Regions from separate parts of the Homo sapiens genome. Here region 2 is reported to be linked to region 1. The links are microRNA targets in miRTarBase. Many come from high-throughput screens and were not tested one by one. Region 1 holds a microRNA gene; the other region holds the end of a gene's coding sequence.

Region 1 (4,000 bases):
TTTGTTCTAAGGAACTTACAGTCTACTGGGGGACATTACAGAACAACTAAATTTATAAGATAATTGCACATTGAGATCTGTTCGGTATGCAGATCTGGCCCCCTCCTTATTTAAAAAGCTTCAGTGCCTTTATATAATCTCAGAATAAAGTGTAAGACCTTTTTACATGACATATGACGGGTGAGACTCTGTAATCTGGCCTCTGTCTCCCTGTCTAGGCTCATCTCTCTTCCCTACTTGCTTTTCATTTTATTGTCACATAATACTGATCTGTTCATGGGTCTCTGTACCTGCTGTTCTCTTACTTGCCTTTGTAACCCCGCAAATTCTGCCCTTCTACCTGAGATAACTGTATCCTTATTTGCTTGCTTAACTGTATGTTATCCTTTAAAAGCAACAAATGTGTCACTTCCTCCAAAGAGCATTCCCTGATACTCCACCCCTCCACCATAAGATGAGTTAGGTACCTCTTCTAGTACTGTGTAATTCCCTATCCTTATCTTTTATCACTGGACTTTGCTATTGTCTTAAAATTGTCTCTGCCTGAATCTTCAAAAATTGTCTCTGTCTGAATCTTGTCCTTTAGGGCAAAACATTTTTATTCTTACCTCTTAGAACAGTGCTTGGCACATGGTTGTTATGCTATACATTTATGTTGAACAAATGAACTACCAATTTGCTAGCAGGTCATTATCATATTAGACATTGTAAGAGTCTAAGGCAGTATCAGTGGAGACGGAGAGAAGAGGCTAGTTTCAGGAAGTATTTATAAAGCGGAATCAAAATGTTATAGCAGACTAGATATAAAAAGAGATTTGAGGTAGGAAAACTGCTGATTATGCCATTGCCTGACATAGGGATTCCAAGGGAGTGGGAGCAGGTGAGGAGCCATGATAAACTCAGTTTGCAGCATGCTAGTTTTAAAAAATGCTTGGCTAATAATACTATATTATTTCCTTGAGATTTGGTAAGAGCAGGTATTAAGTTCCTCATGACACCCACAGATGGTAATGATGGGTGGCAATAGATGTGTTAATTCATTTGTGGTAATCATTACACAGTGTATATCAAGTCATTACATTATACACATTGACTATATACAATTTTTGTTTTTCAATTAAGTATTTATTAAAAGGGAGCTTGGAGTCTATCCAGAAAGTAGTAGATAATAGACAATTACAAATATGGATACAGAACTTAACAGAAGTCAGAGCCTAAAACTATAGATTTGAAGTTATTTGCCTGCTAATGGTGTTTAGAACTAGTAGAGTGTTTTTCACCCAAGAAAAATGAGTGGGAAGCATTTGAAATGGTTTTATGGATGAGGTAGCATTTGAACTAATGTGTTTGAGAAAGCTCAGAAGGGCATAGTGACTAGGGAAAATTATTTTGTTTTCTTCAGTGATTGAGAATCTTCTAATTTCCTTAGTACATTTTCCTTTAAATTATTCCATATGTGATTTCTGCTTTCTTTATCATAAAATTAGTTGGTATATTCATTCTGAAGATCACAGAGATTGAATACTTGTTTTAGTGTTATTTTTCCTCTTCTGGGCCAAATTCCAGATTTTGAGTTTTCATCTTACTATTTTCTTCCTCATCATCATTTTGCTATCTACACACTTATATCGTTGAACCAATAACTGAATAACTTGTGATTTGTTGATTTAGAAAGCTTAGCTCTAGAAATGTTCTGTCTGGCTTGAGTGTTTTGTATGGTCAGCTTGGTCATTGTGTCCCTGTAACTGGAGACACCTGTTACGTTCCTCCTCAAGTTACTATTTATGAGGCTCAGCAAGGCCCTCAACTAAATCTTACGTGGTTTAATCTTTCCTGCCTTCCTCAGGTTTATGTGGGAGGGGTATTTTCATGACTCTGGCAGCACTGTTTATTTTGCTGCTTTCTGTTAATTAAATGTCATCTAATTTTTTATATGAATCTTTATAATACAAAGACTAAATTTAGATCTAAAATCAATGTTTTTTTATTCATTGTTTTCCCAATTATGCTGAATATATGACAGTAAGTTAAATGTCTGAGAGGAAAACATATCTTATCACTTGCTTAAACATGTCTTGATTTGAGCAGTTTTGCTTAAGCCTAGAGTCTTAGTACTTCAGCGTGATATTATCAGGTGAGTCATGTTATTATCATCTACCAGACTGAGACTTGGGCATATGTGACCATCACCTCAATTTCTGCAGAAACAAATATTTTATCTGTACCAATAGCCCTTGATTTTTCTCCACCTAGCACAACATAAGAGATACAACAGTAGCAGTGGCACGCTTGACAGTGATTTTTTTCCTGGGATTTGGGAGCTTATCAGAATCTCCAGGGGTACTTTATAATTTCAAAAAGTCCCCCAGGTGTGATTCTGATTTGCTTCCTTTTCCTCCTCCTGCTCTGAGAATCACCGTTTCTTTAGAAGCATCAGCATAAATAGGCACATGTATTAGTATCTTCTCCTGGTATGGTTGAGCTCCCTAACTCCCAAACCCCCATACTTGCCTTTTGAGTGATCTCCATTAGTTCTTTCTAATATCATAACTTTTGAAACAAATGTCTGTCACCAAAGGTATGGCTACCACCAAAACAACCTCGTTCATGTTTAGAAGCCTACAAAGCTTGAGGGCCAGGTTTAATAATACAGTTTAAATGGGAACCCTTTTTAAAGACTTACACTCAGGTCTGAGATTTATATTAACACTGACCCCCTCCCCCAGTTTTATTTTAACATTTTATGATGAACATTTTCAAACTTATACTGACATGGAAGGAATTTCAAGAGAACACCTGTATATCCACCTCCTGGATTCTATAACATTTTAATAAACTTGTTCAGTCACACGTCTACCCAAATATTAACCCCTCTATCCATGTATCGAGTCATCTTTTTAATGCATTTGACTGTGAATTGCAGATGTCAGTAAAATTTCCCCTAAATACTTCCAGCTTGCATATTATTACCTGGAGCTCAATATTTGTTAAGTGTTTTTCTTTTGATGTAAATTTATATACAGTGAAGGGTCCAAATCTTAAGTGCTTCTTAACTGAGTTTTAACAAATGATAAATCTGTATAACCTAAGCCCCTATCAAGATATAGAAATTTAACAACCCCTTTTTTCTGCCCAGTTATTTCCTCTTGACTTTACATAGTCTCTGAATTAAAGGTAAGAAAAAGATTTGTCAGTGCTTACAGGACAAATAGAGATTGATGTTTAATGACAGCAGATTTCTCTTCTCAATTGCCTGAAGCACTTTGTGTTTCAAATGGTATATGAGTGTTTTAAAATAGAAGACTGAGTGAATTACTTATATTTTCAGTTTTTAAAACATTATTTTGGAGAATATCAGATGTAAATACTTCAGATCTATTTTCTTAAGTATTTTATAAGGCAAGAGCTCTAGTTCAATGAAATATGAGGAGGTATGTATAGAAACAGAAGTGTAGAAGAGAAAGAAGGTGGAGATGAGATGGAAAAAAATCATGTAAATATTAACGTAATATTACAAATGTTATATTAAAAGGTGGTTAATTGGTTAAAATATCTATTATGTACATGTAACATCACTAGACATCATAGACTATCCTTACAACAGTGGGATGCCATTTATTAAAAAATACCAGCATATTATAATCTGCCTTTAGGAAATACAAATTAAATTCCTCTCACTATTGGTCTTGAGTGTTAGTCATTTTATTTTTAATGCCTTTATTCCTGGAAAATATCACTTATATGGCTTATTTTTAAAGTGAATGAACAGATTTTAACTTATACCAGTATATTTTACAGTATGCTTTTGGAATTAATTTGCTTGCATCTTATGAGGGGCAACACATAAGTTCATTTCTAATAAAATAATTCTGTTCCCCAAAGGAGAAGCTGTGACACAAATAAATTGATATTTCCATAATCAAAAGATATAGCAAACACACAGTCATTTGCATATAGTTCCTGAAATATTGCATACTGGCTTTGTCAATGCTGGTAAGTC
Region 2 (4,000 bases), not on the chromosome of region 1:
TACTATCTCAATAAACTGCATCCTTTATCCAATGCCCAACACAAACTCCCGGTCCAGTGTTACCTCCCACCAGTCTTCCACACAGTATACTACTACTCGGCATGAAGCAGCCAGATCCGTGCTTTTCCATTTCCACCCCTTCCAAAAGGCAAATCAGTGACTGACCCCTCCCCTTCACTACTTCCTCTTGCTACAATGTTACCCATTTTTCAAAACCCAGCTTAACAAAAACTTTTACAGTTCTGCATGGGCTCCCCCTTCCTCTGAACTCACAATTGTTTTAAATCACACTTTTCCCTTGCATGAATAATAGTTGTGTCCGTGTCTTCACATCTCTACGACCTAAACAGTTCCCTACAATCTAAACGGCTGTTTCATTCATACCTCCTAGTAACTCATACAGAGAAGATTCCACTTAAATATAAAATGAACAGAAACTAAAAAAGAGAAGAGGTTATAATACAGAATACTGCAAAAGCTGAGGGATCAGGAGGCCACAACTAATCCTTACCTGCAGGCAAGAATCTGACGAGTTCTGTCTCGGCACCCTTCTGCTTCCGGGCCTTTCGGCCTGGCCCCCGCTTCTCCTTCGTAGGGTCCAACTTGCGCCCCATGGTACTGTGGCAGGCAGAAATGGGAGAAGGTGGCGTCGCGCGTGTCGGAGGGAACGGCAGAACGCACGCTTGGCGTATTATAGTGGGAAAGGGCACAGCCTCAACTCAGCACCCGCAACTCACTCAGCACTCCCGACTCAGCACCCGCGACTCAAGCACCCCCGCTATCCCCCTGGAGGCCCGACCGAACGCCCTCCCACCTGAAACCCAGGTAGCGCACCCTTCTCCCCACGTCCCAGACCAGGTCAGTGCTGCCACTCTTCGTCCCCCAATTTCCTCTAGACCCACCAGAATGCGGGTTAATGTCCGAGAGTGCCCTTCGGGCGGCCCTCCACGTGCAATCCGGACCTAGCTTTCGGCCGGCACTCGCCACAGAATCGTTCCACGCAGGCGCACGGGTAGCGCTAGCCTCGCGGCCCCGCCTCTTCCTGTTGCGCCTAGTCGGCCGCCGCACCCGGAACTTACGCTCGCCCTGGGAACGCCAGCGGAGCCGGCGGCGGCGAGTAGGGGGCAATTCGAAGGAGACGCGCAGCTTACACCCGCGGCGGGTGGAGGGAGCAATGTGACGAAACCATTGAGCTTGACCGACCTTCCCTCATGGAGTTGGCTTTTAGCCTCACGGCCGGTTTCTGTTGGGTGAAAGCCGCACCTTCTCCTCGAACCAGGGCCCGACATTGGAGCCCTCTCCCTCGCATCCACTGCCCTAGTCCAGCGTCAAGATCACGGAATTCCAGGCTGGGCGCAGTGGCTCACGCCTGTAATCCCAGCACTTTGGGAGGCTGAGGTGGGTGGATCACTTGAGGTCAGGAGTTCGAGACCAGCCTGGCCAATATGGTGAAACCCTGCTTCTACTAAAAATACAAAATTAGCCGGGCGTGGTGGCGGGCGCCTATAATCCCAGCTACTCGAGAGGCTGAGGCAGAATTGCTTGAGCCCGGGAGGCGGAGGTTGCAGTAAGCCGAGATCGTGCCACTTAAGCCTCACCAAGAGCGAAACTCCACCTCAAAAAAAAAAAACAAAAAAACCAGCCGGGCTCGGTGGCTCACGCCTGTAATCCCAGCACTTTGGGAGGTCGAGGCGGGCGGATCACGAGGTCAAGAAATCCGAGACCATCTTGGCCAACCTTGTCTCTATTAAAAATACAAAAATTAGTTGGGCATGGTGGCTGGCGCACGCGTGTAGTCCCAGCTACTCGGGAGGCTGAGGCAGGAGAATCGCTTGAACCCGGGAGGGGGAGGTTGCAGTGAGCTGAGATCGCGCCACTGTACTCCAGCCTGGCAACAAAGCGAGACTCCATCTCAAAACAAACAAACAAAAAAAACCGTGGAATTCCATGCCACTTACCTCCTCCTCTTTGCCCCTTTTTTAAAAATCTTTTTATAGAGACGGGTTGTAGGGGGTGGCGTCTCACTATATTGCCAGGGCTGGTCTAGAACTCCTGGGCTTAAGCGATCCTCCTGCCCCCACCTTTGTGCTGAGATTACAGGCTGTGAGCCACCGTGCCCCGCCCTCCCAGCACCTTCCTTGATGCTGACCCCTGCTCAGCCCCTCAATTAAGGTGCTGCACTGCACCTCATTCGCAGGGGGCCTCTTCGCCGGAACTCGCTTTCAGGTGGGTCTACAATTAGTTGGGAAACAACGGGTTGCAAGGCTGACCTGGTCTGGGACATGAGAAGGGGTGAACTACAAGGGTTTCAAGGTTGGAGGACGTTAGGTCGGGCCTCCGGGGGTGTGGGATTGAGGCTGTGTTCTTCCACAAATTGCATCCCAATTTTGCACAACTTAGCAAGAAAACCCCCCTCAGCCTTCCTAGAAACTAACATTAAGGTAGTGGTTAGGTGTTAAAACCGTTCCATGTACTTCACTGGTTTAACTTGACAACCGTATGAGGTATACATGAGATATCTGCATCCCACCAAAGTTAAACAACTTGCTCAAGGTCACAGAGCCATTAAGCGGCGGTGCCCGCAGTTTTGCAGCCTCTCATTTTCCACAGGTGGAAGTCAACGTTGGCAAGGCACATACTGCACCCACACACAGAACCCAGTTACTCAGTGGGGTATCAGGACACCACGTAGCCCTTAATTTTCAACTATACAGGTGCCAGGCTCCTGCCGCACACACTCATCCACCTGCACCTACACCCACACTGAACCAGAGCACTAAAATACAAGGAAACTTTTATTTTCAATTTTCATCAAGAAATTTGCTGTGGTTTTTTATGCTTTTGGTTTTTTCCTTTTTTTTTTTTTCCACTTTATTTCATTTAGCCGCTCAGTGGCTAGAGCCGCTGGGTTCCTGGTATTAAAAAGATGCCAACAGAGGTAGCTGTGTCTCGCCCAGGGGCCCAGCCCACTCTGAATACCCCCCAAAAAGGAGAAAAGAAAACACAAAATAAACCAACAAAATAAAACCAAAAGGAGGAAAAAATTCAGATCATTTTCTTCAAGCCTGGCAGGAACCCACAACAGTTTGTGTGTAACAGGCGTTACAGTGGGGAGAAGCCAGGGTCCAGAAGGCCAGCCCGCCAGCTCCTGCAGATGGCGCCAGCGCTACTGCTGCATGTCTCTTCTGCAGGAAGGGCACCACTGCCCCTCACTCCCTCCCCTCCCCCAGTGCACTGGGGCTGTTCCTTTACAACATGGAAGATGGGCAGAAGGAAGGTGAGGGTCTCTCAGGCCCCCAGGGGAGAAGCTGGGACAAGAGAAAGTGAGGAAGGTCACTGCTCAGCGGTGGAGGTGGTATCAGTCTGCATCTTCACTGCTGCTGGGCTACCTAGAGAAGGAGACCCGAGGAGTCAGAATTCCAGATGATAGGAATCCACCCAATCTCAAGGGAATTCACTGATAGGCCACCCACCCAGTATGTAAAGCTAGGGACATACAGCAAAGTTACAAGCTCCAGAATGGTTCTGCAGGAAGAGGTGGTGTCAAGAAGAAAATGGTCCTACCTGCTGTGGGGTAGGTTCGGGTGCCCGGTTTGCCAGGCGGCTGAGAATGTTACGCTCTGACATCTGTAACCTCACAGCAACTGGGGGAATTCGGGCAATGGTAGCTGGGAGTCGAGTCACATCAGCTTTCATGTCACTCAGCAGTTCTTCCAGCTGTTTCAGAACTGCATAGGGAGAAAAAGAGGTGGTGAGCTGTGGTGGCCCAGACTGAGCTCCCTCTACCCTAGTGGACCAGCCCCCCATCACTTCTCAGTGACCAAGTAACTGTGATGTATTGTCTTCTGTCATCTGACCTGACCTCCACCATGTTCAAATTCCTACTCCTCATATTCCAGTTCCAACTGTCCATGATTTTGTGCTTTTTAAAGTCACCTAAACCTTCACTATCCCTTACTATTATTGTATTTCCTCTTCTTGAGCTTATTCGTTTTTTCTC

Evidence for each region. The annotated mature microRNA hsa-miR-361-3p reads UCCCCCAGGUGUGAUUCUGAUUU and lies in region 1 at 2,362-2,384, shown strand. An mRNA with a match to its seed (bases 2 to 7 or 8) in the 3' UTR can be bound and repressed. Matches are read on the target gene's strand: a 7mer-m8 pairs with bases 2 to 8, a 7mer-A1 pairs with bases 2 to 7 and ends in A, and an 8mer does both.
Region 2: the mRNA of CHD4 is a reported target of hsa-miR-361-3p. Seed matches in the 3' UTR shown: 7mer-m8 at 3,294-3,300 and 8mer at 3,223-3,230.

What each region holds. Positions count from the first base shown.
Region 1 is chrX:85,902,025-85,906,024 of GRCh38, reverse strand. MIR361 (microRNA 361) reads left to right here and starts at 2,318; the gene lies at 2,318-2,389. The region is part of intron 9 of CHM (CHM Rab escort protein); the gene reads left to right.
Region 2 is chr12:6,567,305-6,571,304 of GRCh38, forward strand. It overlaps CHD4 (chromodomain helicase DNA binding protein 4), which reads right to left. Exons shown (of 40, transcript NM_001273.5): 39 at 3,565-3,728; 40 at 2,778-3,389. The coding sequence ends at 3,372. It overlaps NOP2 (NOP2 nucleolar protein), which reads right to left and starts at 987. Exons shown (of 16, transcript NM_001258308.2): 1 at 903-987; 2 at 512-618. The coding sequence starts at 614. CHD4-AS1 (CHD4 antisense RNA 1) reads left to right here and starts at 1,067. Exons shown (of 3, transcript NR_199067.1): 1 at 1,067-2,226. RefSeq lists enhancers at 837-1,458, 1,282-1,331, 2,999-3,293.